Linked DNA regions of Homo sapiens: region 2 is linked to region 1. The links come from fine-mapping of genetic effects on gene expression. Tissue or cell type: whole blood. Region 1 holds a variant in brackets; the other region holds the start of a gene. All regions are shown on one strand. Distances are from middle to middle.

Region 1 (8,151 bases):
CATGCTGTTCCAGGAGCCTGGCCATGACAGGTGGCTTTGCTTGGTGTTTTGTCCAGGATCAGCTTTCCAAGGCTGCTGTGACAGCCCTGGCCTCTCTCTACGGGACCAAGTTCAACTATGGCAGCATCATCAAGGCAATTTGTAAGTGGCCGTAGGGTCTCTCTTGATGGGCCTGCGAGGAACATCTGCTGGCTCTTCCTGACCGAGGGAGTATCCCTCATGGAAGGAAGTAGCCAAGGGCACCCAGATCTGTCAACTGCTGGCAAGGGCTATTCTGAGGGGTGGGCAGTCCCTTTTCCTGACATGAACTCTGCTTCCTTTGATACTTTCAGACAAATGTGAATTCCTCTGACAGCTCTTGTCCTCTTGTGTTGGGGCCAAGTCTAGTTTCTTGGTTGGATGGGGTGGAGAGTCCTGCTGGGATTTGCAGATCACCAGGAAATTCAACTTAAAAAAACACTTCTCGGGGGCAGGGCACCGTGGCTCATGCTTGTAATCCCAGCACTTTGGGAGGCTGAGGTGGGCGGATCACGAGGTCAGGAGATAGAGACCATCCTGGCTAACATGGTGAAACCCCGTCTTTATTAAAAATACAAAAAATTAGCTGGGTGTGGTGGTGTGCGCCTGTAGTCCCAGCTACTCGGGAGGCTGAGGCACAAGAATCGCTTGAACCCGGGAGGTGGAGGTTGCAGTGAGCCAAGAGCACGCCACTGTACTCCAGCCTGGGCGACACAGCGAGACTCCATGTCAAAAAAACAAAAACAAAAACCACTTCTCCTCCAGTGCCCCTCAATTAGACAATAGGCCTGATTTATTCCTCACTTACTTATTCATGCAGTGCCCCTGAGAGGAGCATTACTGAATCAAAATGGAATTAACTCAACAAATGTTTATTGAACACCTACTATACACCAGGCCCTGTTTCATGTACTTGGGATATAGCCATGAATGAAATAAGCAAAGATCAGGGAACTTTCTAGCCAGGGAGACCAACAATGAACATAAATAAGTAAATGATACAGTATGTGAGGTGACGAATGCTGGGGAGGAAAACTAAAACTAGACCAGGTGAGGTGAATCGGGAACACTGGGGGTGGAGGTGGGGCAGGTGGGTTGAAGGGTGGGCCTCATTGACAGAGTGACATTTGGGCAACTATTGAAGGAAGTGGGTGGAGGAGGTGGCAGCCAGGAGGCTATCCAGCTAGGAAGAGCCTTCCAGGCAGAGGAACATTCTAGAGCAAAGGCTCTACAGTGTGGTCTGGCCGGGGATGTTGCTGGAACAACAAGACTGGTGTGGCTGCCTCCAAGTAAGTGAAGGTCAAAGCTGGGTAGAAGGCTGAGGGGGCAGGGCTGCGTACACACCTCACACGCTTCCTGCCTGAGTGCCTAGGCCTTGGTGGGCAAGCAGGTCACAATCTTATCCAAGGTTGACCTCACTTTTGGACTCCAGGCCTTCTTTGGAAACTGATTCAACTCTGAGTCAAGGTTTTGCTTCATTCAACATGGTCAAGTTAAATTCTGATATGCAGCCTACTGCTCTCTCCTGGGCCAATTCAAAAGTGGCTTCATTACCCACTGTTAATTACAGTTTCCCGGGCAAAGTTTCCTCCTAAAAGAAAGACAAGGGGCTTTTGCTTTGACTCTGGCTCTTTGCACTTTCCCCCTCACAGACCAGAGCCCCAGGGGAACAAATCCTGGTTACCCAAGCAGGGAACTCGGTATATTTAGGGGCTTCACCGAAAGGGCTGTTGGACAGAGGCTGTTTTCAGAGGGGCTTGTGCAATTGCAGAGACTTCCTTGCATCCCCTAGTGAATAGGGGAACCATTGCTGGTCTCCTCTTTGGACCTCTTGGCTTAGACCTTTTAGTGGGAGTTTCTTGGAAGTGAGGCTGCTTGGTCAACAGCAGACCTTAGTAGACACTGACTCCACTCAGCATTGCACAAGGCACAGAGCTTTGGACAGGGTTGGATCGTTAACCCAACCCGTGTAAATATTCCCAAAGTGATTGACCCTTTCTCTCCTATTTTACTCCTGCCCCAGATCAAGCCAGTGGAAGCACTATTGACTGGACCTACAGCCAGGGCATCAAGTACTCCTTCACCTTCGAGCTCCGGGACACTGGGCGCTATGGCTTCCTGCTGCCAGCCTCCCAGATCATCCCCACAGCCAAGGAGACGTGGCTGGCGCTTCTGACCATCATGGAGCACACCCTGAATCACCCCTACTGAGCTGACCCTTTGACACCCTTCTTGTCCTCCTCTCTGGCCCCATCCAGGCAACCAAATAAAGTTTGAGTGTACCAGGAACAGAATCCTGGGGCTTGCATGTGGAGTGTCTGCCTCTTCAAGCTGGGGCAAAAGTGATTTAATTCCTGCAGGCCTCACTGGAAATGTGTGGGTGGTTGGACTAGATGACCCCTACATTCCCCTGCATTCCAACATCCTGTGAAGTCGTATCCAAGTGGCGTCTGTTTTAATTAGACCACCCTGAGTTCAGCTCACCAGTGGGATGATTTGTTCATACCTTAGTAGCAAGCAGCAGCAACAGCTGCTAACCAAATGCCCGGCACCCCACAGTGGTGTGGAATTCGGCGTGTACAAAGGTCTAGCTAGCTGTGTCCATTCATCTATAAAAGCAACAACCTAGAAGATGAAATATAATAATCCAGGTGGCCACTGCTGTCCAAAATAGATGTTGCAGCCAAGTAAAACAGATTACTAAAGAGCAAAATATCATCTTCCATTCCGGAATCAAATTGGAAGAAAACAATTGGGTTAAATAAAATCATTAACTGCAGATAAAGAACCAATCCAAAGGCCAATCCCAAGACATTTTTAATTTTTAATTTTTTTTGGTAGAGATGGGGTTTTGCCATATTGCCCAGGCTGGTCTTGAACTCCTGGGCTCAAGCAATCCTCCTGCTTTGGCCTCCCAAAGTCCTGGGATTACAGGTGTGAGCCATCACATTTGGCCAAGATATTTTATTAACTGTATAAATTAATTATATATTCTGAAGATTTTGCCTTTAGGGATAGAAATCACCCACTTTTCATTTGCCACATCCTTCCCAGCGTCTTTGGTACATGGTTCTGCTCCCTCGTGTTTCCATCCACCCCACTCCTTCCCATTCTCCTGTTGAGACCACAGCTCCTAGGCTTTAGCTTCCCTTCTTCAGCTTGGTGATCCTGATGCAAGTGATATTACAATTAGCAGCTAGCATGACTACATAAGATATCCCAACTTGTTTCAAAGCAAGAATCTCCCTTTTGGCCTGGCCACAGTGGCTCACGCCTGTAATCCCAGCACTTTGGGAGGCTGAGGTGGGCAGATCATGAAGTCAGGAGTCCAAGACCAGCCTGGCCAACATGGTGAAACCCCATCTCTACTAAAAATACAAAAAATTAGCCGGTCATGGGGGCGCATGCCTGTAATCCCAACTACTCAGGAGACTGAGGCAGGAGAATCCCTTGAATTCAGGAGGTGGAGGTTGCAGTGAGCTGAGATTGCACCACTGTAGTGTAGCCTGGGTGACAGAGGGAGACTCCATCTCAAAAAAAAATTAAAATATATTTAAAAATAATAAATGCTTGTGAAATGGAGACATGAAATTTGTTGTCCATCTCAAAAAAAAAAAAAAAAAAAAAAAAAAGAAAGAAAGAAAGAAAAAAGAATCTCCCTTTGTTTCTTCCATATCACTTCAGGTGTGAATGTGGAGCAGGGGGTTTTCCCACAGACTCTGCTGGGGAAGTGAGTGGATTGGGGCTGGAGTGAGGATGGCAGCTTCTCTCTCTAGCAGCCAGGCCAGGTTTCAAGAAGCATCCAGCTCTGTTGACTTGAGTCTTTTCCATATAAAATGGCCTGAAGGCCAAAAATGCCTTTTTT[A/T]AAAAAAAAGAGGAACATTGATGGAATTTTCATCTTGGACTTTTATTTTATTATTATTTTTGCTATCAACATTCTAAAAATAAAAATAAAAAGAATGAGGGCTGGGCACAGTGGCTCACACCTGTAATCCCAGCATTTTGGGAGGCTGAAGCAGGAGGATTCCTTGACCCCAGGAGTTCGAGACCAGCCTGGGCAACATAGCGAGACCCCCCCCCCCCACCTCCACAAAAAATAAAAAATTAGCTGGGTGTGGTGGCATGCACCTGTAATCCCAGCTAATCGAGAGGCTGAGGTGGGAAGAACCGTTGAGCCCAGAAGTTTGCAGTTGCAGTGAGCCATGATGGCACCACTGCACTCCAACCTGGACAACAAAGTGAGACCCTGTCTCTTAAAAGAAAAAAAAAGGATGAGGCTCTATGTATGTATTGTTACATTTTGTATGTATTTGTTACATTATTACATTATATCATTTACATAAACGTATAAACATGTAAATTTATGAGACGAGGTAAAATGGTGTTTCAGTCTTTACAGAAAGATGACCTAAAAGATTTGATAACACCCTCTTCAAGTTATCTTTTAGAAAATGCTTCCCTTCAATCTATATAACGACATTATAACTCTCTTCTCAAAACCCATTTTAACTGCTTAGTTTGAGTGAGTAGGAAGCTGATCACCTTTTGTTTAATGAAGACTGATAAGAGAAGAAATATTAAGTTAGCATGACAATTTATCACTTTATAAAACTGGAGCACTAGACTTTGATGGTAGAATTGCTTAATTTAAAATAAACTGTGCTTCCCGACAGCAGGAACCACCTTGTTTGGCATTCAATCCCCAATAGCGTTAACAGTACCTGACACATAGATGCCTAATAAATACCTGTTGAGTGAATGCTCTCTACTTTTATTAGTGAATTCATAAATGTTATGATCTGTATGTTGTAGGCTTGCTGAAAACACCCTGTGCAAGTTATTTTGAATTCCCAGAGTTGAGTAAGTCTTAAGAAAGCTGAAGTCAATGAATGAATGTCAATTGCACAAGGGCAAGGATTGCTTTGTTTTGTTCACCATTTAACCCCCACTGCTTGGCCAAGTGCACAGCACACAGTAATAATATTGGTATTAATATCAATAATAATAAATGCTTGGCCAGGTGCAGTGGCTCATACCTGTAATATCAATACTCTGGGAGGCTGAGGTGGGAGGATTGCTTGAGCTCAGGATTTCAAGACCAGCCTGGGCAACACAGCGAGACCCAGTCTCTATAAAAAAAACAATTTTAGGCTGGGTGTGGTGGCTCATGCCTGTAATCCCAGCACTTTGGGAGGTTGAGGTGGGCAGATTGCTTGAAGTCAGGAATTTGAGATTAGCCTGGCCAATACGGCAAAACCCCATCTCTACTAAAAATACAGAAATTAGCTGGGCAGTGGTGCATGCCTGTAATCCCAGCTACTCGGGAGGCTGAGGCATGAGAATTGCTTGAAACCAGGAGGTGGAGGTTGCAGTGAGCCAAGATTGTGCCACTGCACTCCAGCCTGGGTGACAGAGGGAGACTCTGTCTCAAAAAAAAAAAAAAAAAAAAAGAAAGAAATATATTAAAAAATAATAAATGCTTGTTAAATGGAGACAAGAAAGTTGTTGGTTTTTTTTTTTTTTGTACTTTCAAGTATGGGAAGAGATTTACATTTTGTTTGTAGATACACATTTTTACAAATCTATGGGTGAAGACACTTAAAATTCTTAAGTAAAAACATAAAGCTAAAAGACAATTTTGGAAAATATTGCAACTTAAAAATGAAAGTATTGATATGAAAATAAGTATTAATAACCTAAAAGACAATTTTGGAAAATATTGCAACTTAAAAATGAAAGTATTGATATGAAAATAAGTATTAATAACCTAAAAGACAATTTTGGAAAATATTGCAACTTAAAAATGAAAGTATTGATATGAAAATAAGTATTAATAACCTTGAGGGGTTAAAATAATAAAAAGGGTTAAAGAAAAAGACAAACATTTCAAAAGAAAAATAGGCAATTCCACTAAGAAGAAACACAAATCAATACATGTATGAAAGACACTGATCCTCTAAGTGATTTCTTGTTCATTAAGGAGAAATGAAGATATTTTTCTCTCATCAGATTGGCAAAGAATAAAAAGACTGATGACTCCAGTGTTAACATGTAGTGCTGGTGGAGCAGAAACTGGCACCACCTTCCCAGAGGGCAAATTTGGCAATATAAATCAAAATTATAAATGTATTGTGTCTTTGATCCAGAAAACCCACATGGAAGAATTTACTTTATAAAAATATTTGGATGGATTCAAAAATATGTATGTACAAGATTGGAAAAGTAAAAAACAAAAAACCTAGATAATTACCAGTCTTGATGCTGATCTGACACATCCACACACTGGAACAACACGACACCATTAAGGGCTGTGTTGACATGGAAAAATGTTCACAACATACTAAGTGAAAGAAACTGGCTATAAGATGGAAATGTTATAAAACTGGATTGTGGTGATGGTTGCACAATTCTGTAAACTTAACTCAAAATCATTGAGTTGTGCACTTAAAATGGGTGAATTTTATGGTATGTGATTTATACAATACAGTTGTTTTAAAAAAGAAGCTGGATACAAAATATTGAGTCTGGATCCCATCTTGTTTAAAAGACACACACACACACACACACACACACACACACACACACACACACAAACATGCTTTCTCTCTCTCCTTCTCTTTCTCTTCCTGGAAGGATATATCCCCCAATAATAATAATGATTAACCTGGGTAGTGGTGGTGGTAGTTTTCCTTTTTATGCTTCTCAGCATTTCTCGCAATGAGCTTCTATAATCAGCTTTTATAACGGGCAGGGAGTGAAGGGAGCTATTTCGAACACAGTAGATAACATGTGTGTAAAGTTACCTAACATCGGTGTATTATCAACATCAAACAGCTAAATGGCCATCTTAGTTTTTACTCAGATTCTTTTGATTTGTCTAAACTCATTTTTTTCTGCTCCGGTATAATGTTTCATCATCTTGCCCGGAACGCTGCAGTTTGTCTTATCTTCAGAAAAATTCACACTCCAAGATACAGCTGGAAGCAGCAGTGTTTCTACCAAAGGAAGAGATTACTCAGCTCATGCAGTTGGGGGCCATTCCCCATCCTACCCCTTGTTGTAGCTTGATGAAAATTCCCAAAACCCCTTCCTGCTCACATTCAGTTCTTGTAGCTATCTTGGGAATTGATTATGCTAATGCCTATTCCCCAGGGCCTTTGAAAATCTTTATTTTCAAATGAACTCATTTTACTTTTTACTCAGACCATTACATATGGTTCTCTAATGGCCTGTGGGCCCAATATTGGTGATCTATGAGAATCCTTAGGGTAGCCTCTTGAATTAACACTCAGATATGCACAGCTAGCTTTCTGTCTTTGGCCTAAAGTTAAAATGGGAATGTCATTGAATACAATCCAGATATGACCTCACTGGTCCTTCATCCAGTGCGGGGCGATTCATCACCCTGGCAATTGTTTTGCAAGGGCGAGTGGGATGAGGTGGATTTGAAGATGCACAGGGACTCTTGCTTTAAGGACTACAGCAACATCATTCTGTGAACACACTAAGACCCAGATGCTACTCAGATGAAGCTGATATGACTAACCGTAACATTCAAATTGGCCAAATCAAGGAGAAGCTCTCAGAAAAGCACAGAGCATGCATCGTCAAATCTAAAAAACTGTCAAAGGGTAATGAATTATTCCCCAAAGCTTTCAGGATCTGCATTAATTTGGCAACTCAAACACTGAGCATCATCCAACAACCTCAGAGACTGGGATTGCCAAATGTTTATTGCCAAACTAAAAGGAGAAAATGGAAAGTCTTCTGCTTAACCACAGTAGTGGTATTGGCTACATTTTTAGAAGAGTGCAGTAGAATAAGGGCTCTGCTGACAAGGACTGGGGCAAGGAGGTTTGCCTCTGCTTCCCCCGGGAACTCAGGCCTATGGCCATCGCCAATTCATGCAACTTATGTTTCAGCCGAAATCAGAAACATCACCACAAAGGAAAGAAAAGATCAGGCACAAATCATATCAATATGGTTTACTGAATGAATGGCTAGACCTATCAGGAAAACAGCCTACTTTTTTCCCCCTACAATATAATTAAAAGTTTGTAATTCTCATTCCTTAAGTGGTACTTTGCAAGGTGTCCATTAACAGACAAAATAACCTCGGAAGCCCTGGAGCAC
Region 2 (8,183 bases), 50 kb after region 1:
AAAATTGGCCGGGCACAGTGGTAGGAAGCTGTAATCCCAGCTACTCAGGAGGCTGAGGCAGGAGAATCACTTGAACCCAGGCAGCAGAGGTTGCAGTGAGCTGAGATGGTGCCGCTGCACTCCAGCCTGGGTGATAGAGTGAGACTCCGTCTCAAAAAACAAAACAAAACAAAACAAAAAAACTGCTGTACATTCATACCACAGAATACTGATCAGGTACCAGAAAGAATGAACTACTGCTACATGCAACAACTTGTATGCGACTCAAGGACATTATCTTGAGTGAAAAAAAAAAAAGCCAATCTCAAAAGGTCACATACTGTATGATTCCATTTATGTAAAATTGTCAAAATGACAAAATTATGGAGATGGTTACCCAGGGTTAGGATGATGAGAGGGAAGAAAGTAGGTGTGACCAGAAGAGTAGCTTGGAGATATTTCTAGTGATGCAATAGTTCTTTATCTTGATTGCAAATCTACATATATGTAAATCTTGATTAAATCTATACAAGTGATAAAATGGCCTAGAACTATACATACATTGTGCAAATTTCTATTTTCTAGTTTGATACTGTACTGTACTCATGTAAAATATAATCATTGGGGAAAATGGGTGAAGGATACATAGGACTTCTTTGTACTATTTTTTTTTTTTTTGCAACTTCCTGTGAATCTATACTTATTTTGAAATAAAACGTTTTTTAAAAGTACAACAGAGCAAAAAACAGAGCTCTTAAAAATTAAAAACATGGGCTGGGCACAGTGGCTCACACCTGTAATCCCATCACTTTGGAAGGCCAAGGCAGCAGGTGGATGGCTTGAAGTCAGGAGTTCAAGACCAGCCTGACCAACATGGTAAAACCCCGTCTCTACTAAAAATACAAAAAAATTAGCTGGGCGTGGTGGCAGGTGCCTGTAATCCCAGCTACTTGGGAAGCTGAGGCAGGAGAATCGCTTGAACCTGGGAGGCGGAGGTTGTAGTGAGCCGAAATCGCACCACTGCACTCCAGCCTGGGCAACAGAGTGAGAGTTTATCTCAAAACAAACAAACAAACAAATTAAAAACATGATGGCAGAAATTAAAAACTAAAATGAAGGATTGGAAGATAAAAATTAAATCTCCCAAAGGGAGCAGAAAGACAAAGATGAGGGAAACAGGAGATGAAAGTTACGAAAATCAGAGAACCAGTCATATAGGTTATCTATATGAATACAGAACATCAGAATAATGAATTCAAGAAAAAGAGGATGGAGAAAATAGGAGAGAGAAAGTTAAGAAAATTTTCAGACTAAAAAGACATAAATTTCTGGTGCCTATCAAAATGAGTGAAAATATAAATATCTTTGTAAAGTCACACTGGGGACAAAAAAAAAAGGTTCCACAAGCTTCCTGAGAGGAAAATTCAGTCACAAAGCAAGAGAATGGCTTTGGACTTCACAACAACACAAGACACTAGACCACTAAGCAATGTTTTGCAAGATGCTGATGATGGCCAGGTGTGGTGGCTCACACCTGTAATCCTAGCACTTTGGGAGCCCAAGGCAGGATTGCTTGAGCCCAGGAGTTCAAGACCCTCTTGGGCAACATAGGGAGACCCCATCTCTATAAAAAATACAAAAAAATGAGCTGGGCACGATGACACACACCTGTGGTCCCAGCTACTCAGGAAGTGGGAGAATCATTTGAGCCCAGGAGGTCAAGGATATAGTGAGCCATGTTTGTACCACTGCACTCCAGCCTGGGTGACAAAGCAAGACTGTCTCAAAAAAAAAAAAAAAAAAAAAAAAGAAAAAGAAAAAAAAAGATGTTGATGATTTTCAACCAATAATTCTATACTCAGCCAAACTCACTGGCAAATAAATGTTAAGGTAGAATAAGAATATTTTTAGACATGCCTAACATTTTAGACATAAATTTTTAAAACTATTTCTTATGAATTCTTTCTTAAGAAACTACTAGAAGTTGTGCTCTATTCAAACAAGAGAGTAAACTGGGCATCTTTGTCTCGGGCACAAACATAACCACACGGAACATACTTGCTCCTCTTCCCCCACACTCCTAAAACTATTCCTCCTTTTCGTTCTCCCATATTCTTGATCTCACTCATGGCGCCAGCACCAATGAGTAGTCTAAGCTGAGACTTAAGTCACCCATCACGCATCTCTCAAAGCTAATCAGGAAGTATTGATGATTTTGCCCCCGTAAATATTTATCCTCGATTCCATCCCTAGTTCAATGGCCTTAGTTTAGATCTCTATCAAAATAGTAACTATTGGCAGGGCGCGGTGGCTCATGCCTGTAATACCAGCACTTTGGGAGGCCAAGGCAGGCGGGTGGCTTTGAGCTCAAAAGTTTGAGACCAGACTGGGCAACATGGTAAAACCGCATCTTTACAAAATCCACAAAAACCAGCCAGGCTTTGTTGGTGTGCGCCATAGTCTCAGCTACCCAGGAAGCTGAGGCTGGATAATTGCTTGAGCCCGGGAGGTGGAGGTTGCAGTGAGCTGAAATCTCCCCACTGCACTCCAGCCTGGGTGACAGAGTGAGACTCTGTCTCAAAAATAAATAAATAAATAAAAAATAGTAACCACTTAACCAATCTCATTTCCAGTCCTGGAGCCTCCTCAAACCCATCTTCCACAATGTAGCTACAGCCATCTGCCTAAAATGCAAATCTGACCATGTCACTCCTTTAATAACTCAAAAAATTTCTCAAATCCTGACCAGCAGACAAGATAAATATGTGGCAAACTGCCATTCTCCTCACCTATCTCTCCCACCCCCATGATACACAATATTAACATTTTTATTAATATTTTGATAGACAAATCATAACTTTATACATTTATGGGGTACAATTTGATGTTTTGGTATATACACACACACACAATGTGGAATGATTAAATCAAATTAACATATCCATCAACCCACTTATCTTTTTTTTGAGGTGAGATATTTGAAATTTACTCTCATAAAATATACAATTTACTCTATTTTGAAATCTACAATATAGTTGAACTTTGGACAACATGGGCTTGAACTGTGCAGATCCACTTATACCCAGATTTTCTTCTGCCTCTGTCACCCCTAAGGCAGCAAGACCAACCCCTCCTTTTCCTTGCCCCTTAGCAATGAAGACAATTAGGATGAAGATGTTTATGATGATACACTGCCACTTAATGAATAGTAAATATATTTTCTCTTCCTTATGATTTTCTTAATAATAATCTTTCCTCCAGCTTACTTTAAGAATTCAGTACATAATACATATGAGATACAAAATATGTTAATCAAGTGTTTCTGTTATCAGGAAGCCTTCCAGTCAATAGTAGGCTATTAGTAGTTAAGTTTTTTTGCAGGGGGGAGGGGAGTAAAAAGTTGTACATGGATTTTCTACTGGGGGTTATGAGTCTGCTGTAATTATTATTAACTATAGTCACCATGCTGTGCCAGAGATCTCAAAAACCATTCCTCCTGTTTAACTGTAACTTTGTGCCCTTGGATCAACATCTTCCCATTTCTGCCCTCCTTCCCCCCACCCTCCAGGCTCTGGTAACCACCATTTTATTCTCTACTTCTATGAGCTGGACTTTTTAAGATGCCACGTATAAGTGAGATCATGCAGCATTTAGACATTACCAATTGACCATGGCTCTCTTGCAGGGCTTAGACTCAGCCTTACAGCTTTCTCAGCCTAGTACCAGGCAGCCACCAAGAGATGAAACAGTTACAACTCCTATTTGGGATAAAGGCTAAGAACCTCAGCAAGGCAGAGAAAGCCTGGACTCCTACAGGGGCCTGTTCTGAGTTCACACACTCCTTACCTTCACTTGGGCTGTTCTACCCGGGATGATGCTTCACCTGGCTAATGAATGGCCTTGCCACCCCTTCCATCTCCACAACCCTTCTCTCACTCCCTCAGTTGAGTACTACCTATTTTCTCGTAACATCTTGCTCCCCGACCACACTGTACTCAAATTCTGTTCACAGGCTCCTTCACTAGACGCAATTTATTTATTGTTTATTTTTATTTTTTTGAGACAGAGTCGCTCTTATCACCCAGGCTGGAGTGCAATGGCACGATCTCGGCTCACTGGAACCTCCATCTCCTGGGTTCAAGCGATTCTCCTGCCTCAGCCTACCGAGTAGCTGGGATTACAGGCGCCTCACCACCACGCCCGGCTAATTTTTGTATTTTTAGTAGAGACGGGGTTTCGCCATGTTGGCCAGGCTGGTCTCAAACTTCTGACTTCGTGATCCGCCCGCCTCGGCCTCCCAAAGTGCTGGGATTACAGGCTGAGCCACCGCGCCTGGTCCACTATACGCAATTTATTAAAGGGCAGAGGCCTTGTCTTCTTTGTACGTCTAGCACCTACTGCACCGTGGAAGTTTCCAATAACGTTTGTTGAAACTGCCACAAATGCAGCAGGGGACTAGCGGTGAAACAGATGAAGAAACTGAAGGGTCCTATGGAGAGAGGGGTAAGCCTAATGTCCTATTTTGCCCGTTTTCCAAAGGTTTGGTCAGCTTACTCCTGCTCTTCCTGTATCCCCACAATCAGAGATGCTGGCTGGCTTTCAACACGTGCCATTAGTGTGCAGCGCTTCCTTTGTCTTTTCTGTTTTGTAACTGTCACTCCGAGACTGTAAGCCATTTGAGGGCAAGGGCTGTGTCTTTGGGTACTTCGCTCCTCGCAGTCACAAGTACTGGCGTGCGTACGCGGGGAGAGATCGCTCCTCAAAACGGGGTCCTGAACGCTGCCCCGCGGCCCCCAAGCCCGGCCCGCCCCGCCCCTGCATCCCGACCCCTCCTCACGCCGGCCCCTTCCCGCCTTCCGGGCGGCGGAAGTCGCTGGCTGCTCTTCCCTGCCCACATGAGCCTTTTCCGGTGCGCCCGCCCCCTCCGGCTCTCCGGCCGAGACCTGGCCCTCACCTCAGGGTTCCCAATGTGCCTCCGGAGGGACATATTTTCTCCAACCGACCACGTTCGGGGTTCTAGCCTCACGGGTTGCCTCTAACCCTAGCTTCCTACCCCCACAACCTTGTTCAGCCGCCTCCCTATACCCTCTTCTCCGATTGGCCCGTCTTCCCCGGCCGGCCAATGGGGGCCCCGTTTACTCTCTCATCTCAGGGTCGCAGAAGGGCAAGACGCCGCTCAATGGTTGCCAAGGGCAACGCGGGACGCCGGCTAGCGAGGCCTTTTGTTCTCTGGGCTGGGGCTCGCCGGCTCCAGCCTTAGGGCGGGAAGAGAGGCGCGGGGGGAGGGGAAGGCTGGCGCCTGCGCAAAGCCGGGGGCGGGGGCAGTGGCTTGAGAGCCGGGACAAAACACGAGTTTTAGCTAATGTGGAACCATAAATACAACACAAGACTCCCCATCCCCCAGCTCCGTTTTATGGCCGTTTCAACCAAACATCTGGGCTACTGATTCCACAACAGGGAATATTATATGGGCCAGGGTTGTTCAGCAGAAATGGGAGAGTATGGTTTATTATTTTCTGGTTAAGTTAATATGCGAATTATGCAAAATACATGGGTAAATACAGTAATTATCGGTGCTTTAAAAGCTTTTAGGCTAGCTATAGAGCGACATCCTTAATTGCAAAGCACACGCGCTATTCTGTGGTTCATCGTTCATTTAACAAATACTTAATAAGCACCTTATGAGAAAAGCTGCAGTAGGTCTTGTGGAGAATGGGAGGATGACTAGGACCCAATCCCGTCGTCATGGAAACCATTGTGACTCCTGCCACCAGCCACCACCTGTTCCCATTCCGGATCTGAAAATGAAGTCCTAGCACCTTTACAAAACAATTACACACACAGTTTGACTTGGCTCCTAAATGTCCCACCAAATCCATCAAAATTATTATTTCCTTTTACATGAAAGGAACAACACAGTAACCCTTTGTCCTTTGCTCTAAGTTGTTTTTCCAGGAATGGAGAAAGGTTACTCTGAGCAGTTCATACTCGCCAGTTGTCTGTTAGTGAATAATAGCACACATTTGAGCTACTTCAGGGTCTGTGAGATGACCCATTCAACAACATGGCCTCACATGCCCTTGTTCTCTTAGGCACTTCAGCAACCCAACCTTAGGGCTACACCTTGGATCATGTTGCCAGTCAGTGCTGCTTGACCAGAATTTTGAATTCTGGCCACAGCTGCTTCTTGGACTTTTCATGTCACTCTTTCATGTTTATTAAGTTTTGTCTTAATTTCCATAATCTTTGCCAGTTCTTTAACCCCTCTAAAATTCTCAGTCTCTCACTCCTCTGCTAAGGAAGGGTTTGAAGGCTGCAAAAAATTGGAAGGAGGCAGAGGGAAGAATGTTAATCTAGAAGCTTTTGCATAGCAAGCAGAAACTTCTAGATTCATTAGTATTTAGAATGTATGCTTACCTGGTGCACCTTGTGGGTAACCATAGAGATTATGGATAGAATAACGGGAAAGGAGAGAGGGAGATGATAGGGGACTACACTCAGAGGTGGTGAGAAAGACAGAAAAGGAGAGATTTAAAGACGTGTAGGTAAAATCAATAGTATACATGAGAAGAGGTAAGGGGTGCAAGGAATAGAAATTCATCAAAGATGGCTATAGTTTCTCTAACTTGAGGAACTGAGTAGATGGGCGATAATGCATTAATCAAGTTAAAGAACAACAGTCAAAAAGCCAAAACAGCAGAAAGTACAAGTAGGTCCAACAGTCCATTCAACTTCCATTCTTCAGTGTTTTGGCTCACTTCTTTGTACGGTTGTCTCTCTTTTGTTCCAGAGAACATCTGGTTTACTTGCCTCACTAGTCATCGTGGTTGTCACATTTGGACTGCACAGGAAGCATTATAGAGAGATTATAGAACCCGGCTGGTTCTTGGATCCAACTGACTGTGTGTCTGTGTGTCTGGGTGGGGTAATTTAAATACATGTTCCCTCCCCAATCCCTCAATTCTGATTCTGGCCGGCGGGTGGGGAGCGGGGGGTGTTGTGGTCCAAGGAGACTCTCCTTTAAAAGAGTCACCCCTTTCCTTCACATTTGGCCTCAATGGAATCCTTGGAAAGCTTAAAGCTATAAACCAAAAGACTTTTAACATCATGTATTTCTCTTTAGGATTCCTTTTGGATCCTGCTATGCCAAAACTGGATCAAAACGAACGCCAAGTGCTTACTTTGAAAAAATAGGCAAATGGTGGTGGCAATGGCTCACGCCTGTAATTCCAGCACTTTGAGAGACCAAGGCAGGAGGATAACTTCAGGCCAAAAATTCAAGACCAGCCTGGGCAACACAGTGAGACCGTGTCTCTATTTGTAAAAAATAGGCAAATGGTACAAAATGATAACTGATAAAAGAAAAACATCCAATAAACATATCAAAAAAACACAGAGCACCGGGCGCGGTGGCTCACCCCTGTAATCCCAGCACTTTGGGAGGCTGGCGGATCACGAGGTCAGGAGATTGAGATCATCCTGGCTAACACGGTGAAACCCCGTCTCTACTAAAAATACAAAAAATTAACGAGGCGCGGTGGCGGGTGCCTGTAGTCCCAGTTATCCGGGAGGCTGAGGCAGGAGAATGGCGTGAACCCAGGAGGCGGAGCTTGCAGTGAGCCGAGATCACACCACTGCACTCCAGCCTGGACGACAGAGCGAGACTCCGTTTCAAAAAAAAAAAAAAAAAAATACAGAGCAAGATAACTAGATCCCATTTTTCAACTATCAAATGTACAAAAGTTTTTTTCTTTAACAATAATGCTTAGTGCTGGCTAATGATTCATGAAACAACATGATCACATATTGTTAGTGCGAATATAAAGGAGCATGATCATTTTGAAGAATAATTTGAGAGTAGGTATTGAGAAGTCCTCAAATCTTAATATGCTAAGAATTCCTCCTAAGGAAATAATTGGACAAATGTACAGACATTACATCCATAGATGTTTACTGGAAGTATATTTAAAATGATAAAAATTGAAACAATCTAATTGATCATCAATTTAAAAATGATTAAAATAAATGCTGGCATATCTATACAAAGTAATCTTATGGAATCATTTAAAAGTATGTTTCAAGGCATAATTAAGGCAGTGGAGAACTGTTCCTGATACAGTAGATGAAAAGAGCAAGAAACAACTTTTTATTTAATATAATCCTGATTTGCATGGAGAAAAATACAGGTATCTGCAGAGAAAAAT

The links. PIP is the estimated chance that this variant, and not a neighbour inherited with it, causes the effect.
Region 2: it holds the start of CEP41, and the variant in region 1 is fine-mapped to the expression of CEP41 in whole blood (INTERVAL, PIP above 0.99). The same link has a PIP of 0.9 or more in blood mononuclear cells.

The regions. Positions count from the first base shown.
Region 1 is chr7:130,385,783-130,393,933 of GRCh38, forward strand. It overlaps CPA1 (carboxypeptidase A1), which reads left to right. Exons shown (of 10, transcript NM_001868.4): 9 at 57-141; 10 at 2,042-2,326. The coding sequence ends at 2,229. It overlaps CEP41 (centrosomal protein 41), which reads right to left. Exons shown (of 11, transcript NM_018718.3): 11 at 7,989-8,151. Among named protein-coding and RNA genes, the nearest start is that of CPA1, 9.4 kb to the left of the region's middle. The variant A/T (reference allele first, on the strand shown) is at 3,884.
Region 2 is chr7:130,436,001-130,444,183 of GRCh38, forward strand. It overlaps CEP41 (centrosomal protein 41), which reads right to left and starts at 5,016. Exons shown (of 11, transcript NM_018718.3): 1 at 4,934-5,016. The coding sequence starts at 4,966. It overlaps LOC105375505 (a long non-coding RNA gene), which reads left to right and starts at 5,754. Exons shown (of 3, transcript XR_927973.3): 1 at 5,754-6,688; 2 at 6,770-6,889; 3 at 7,103-7,226. RefSeq lists an enhancer at 4,702-5,456.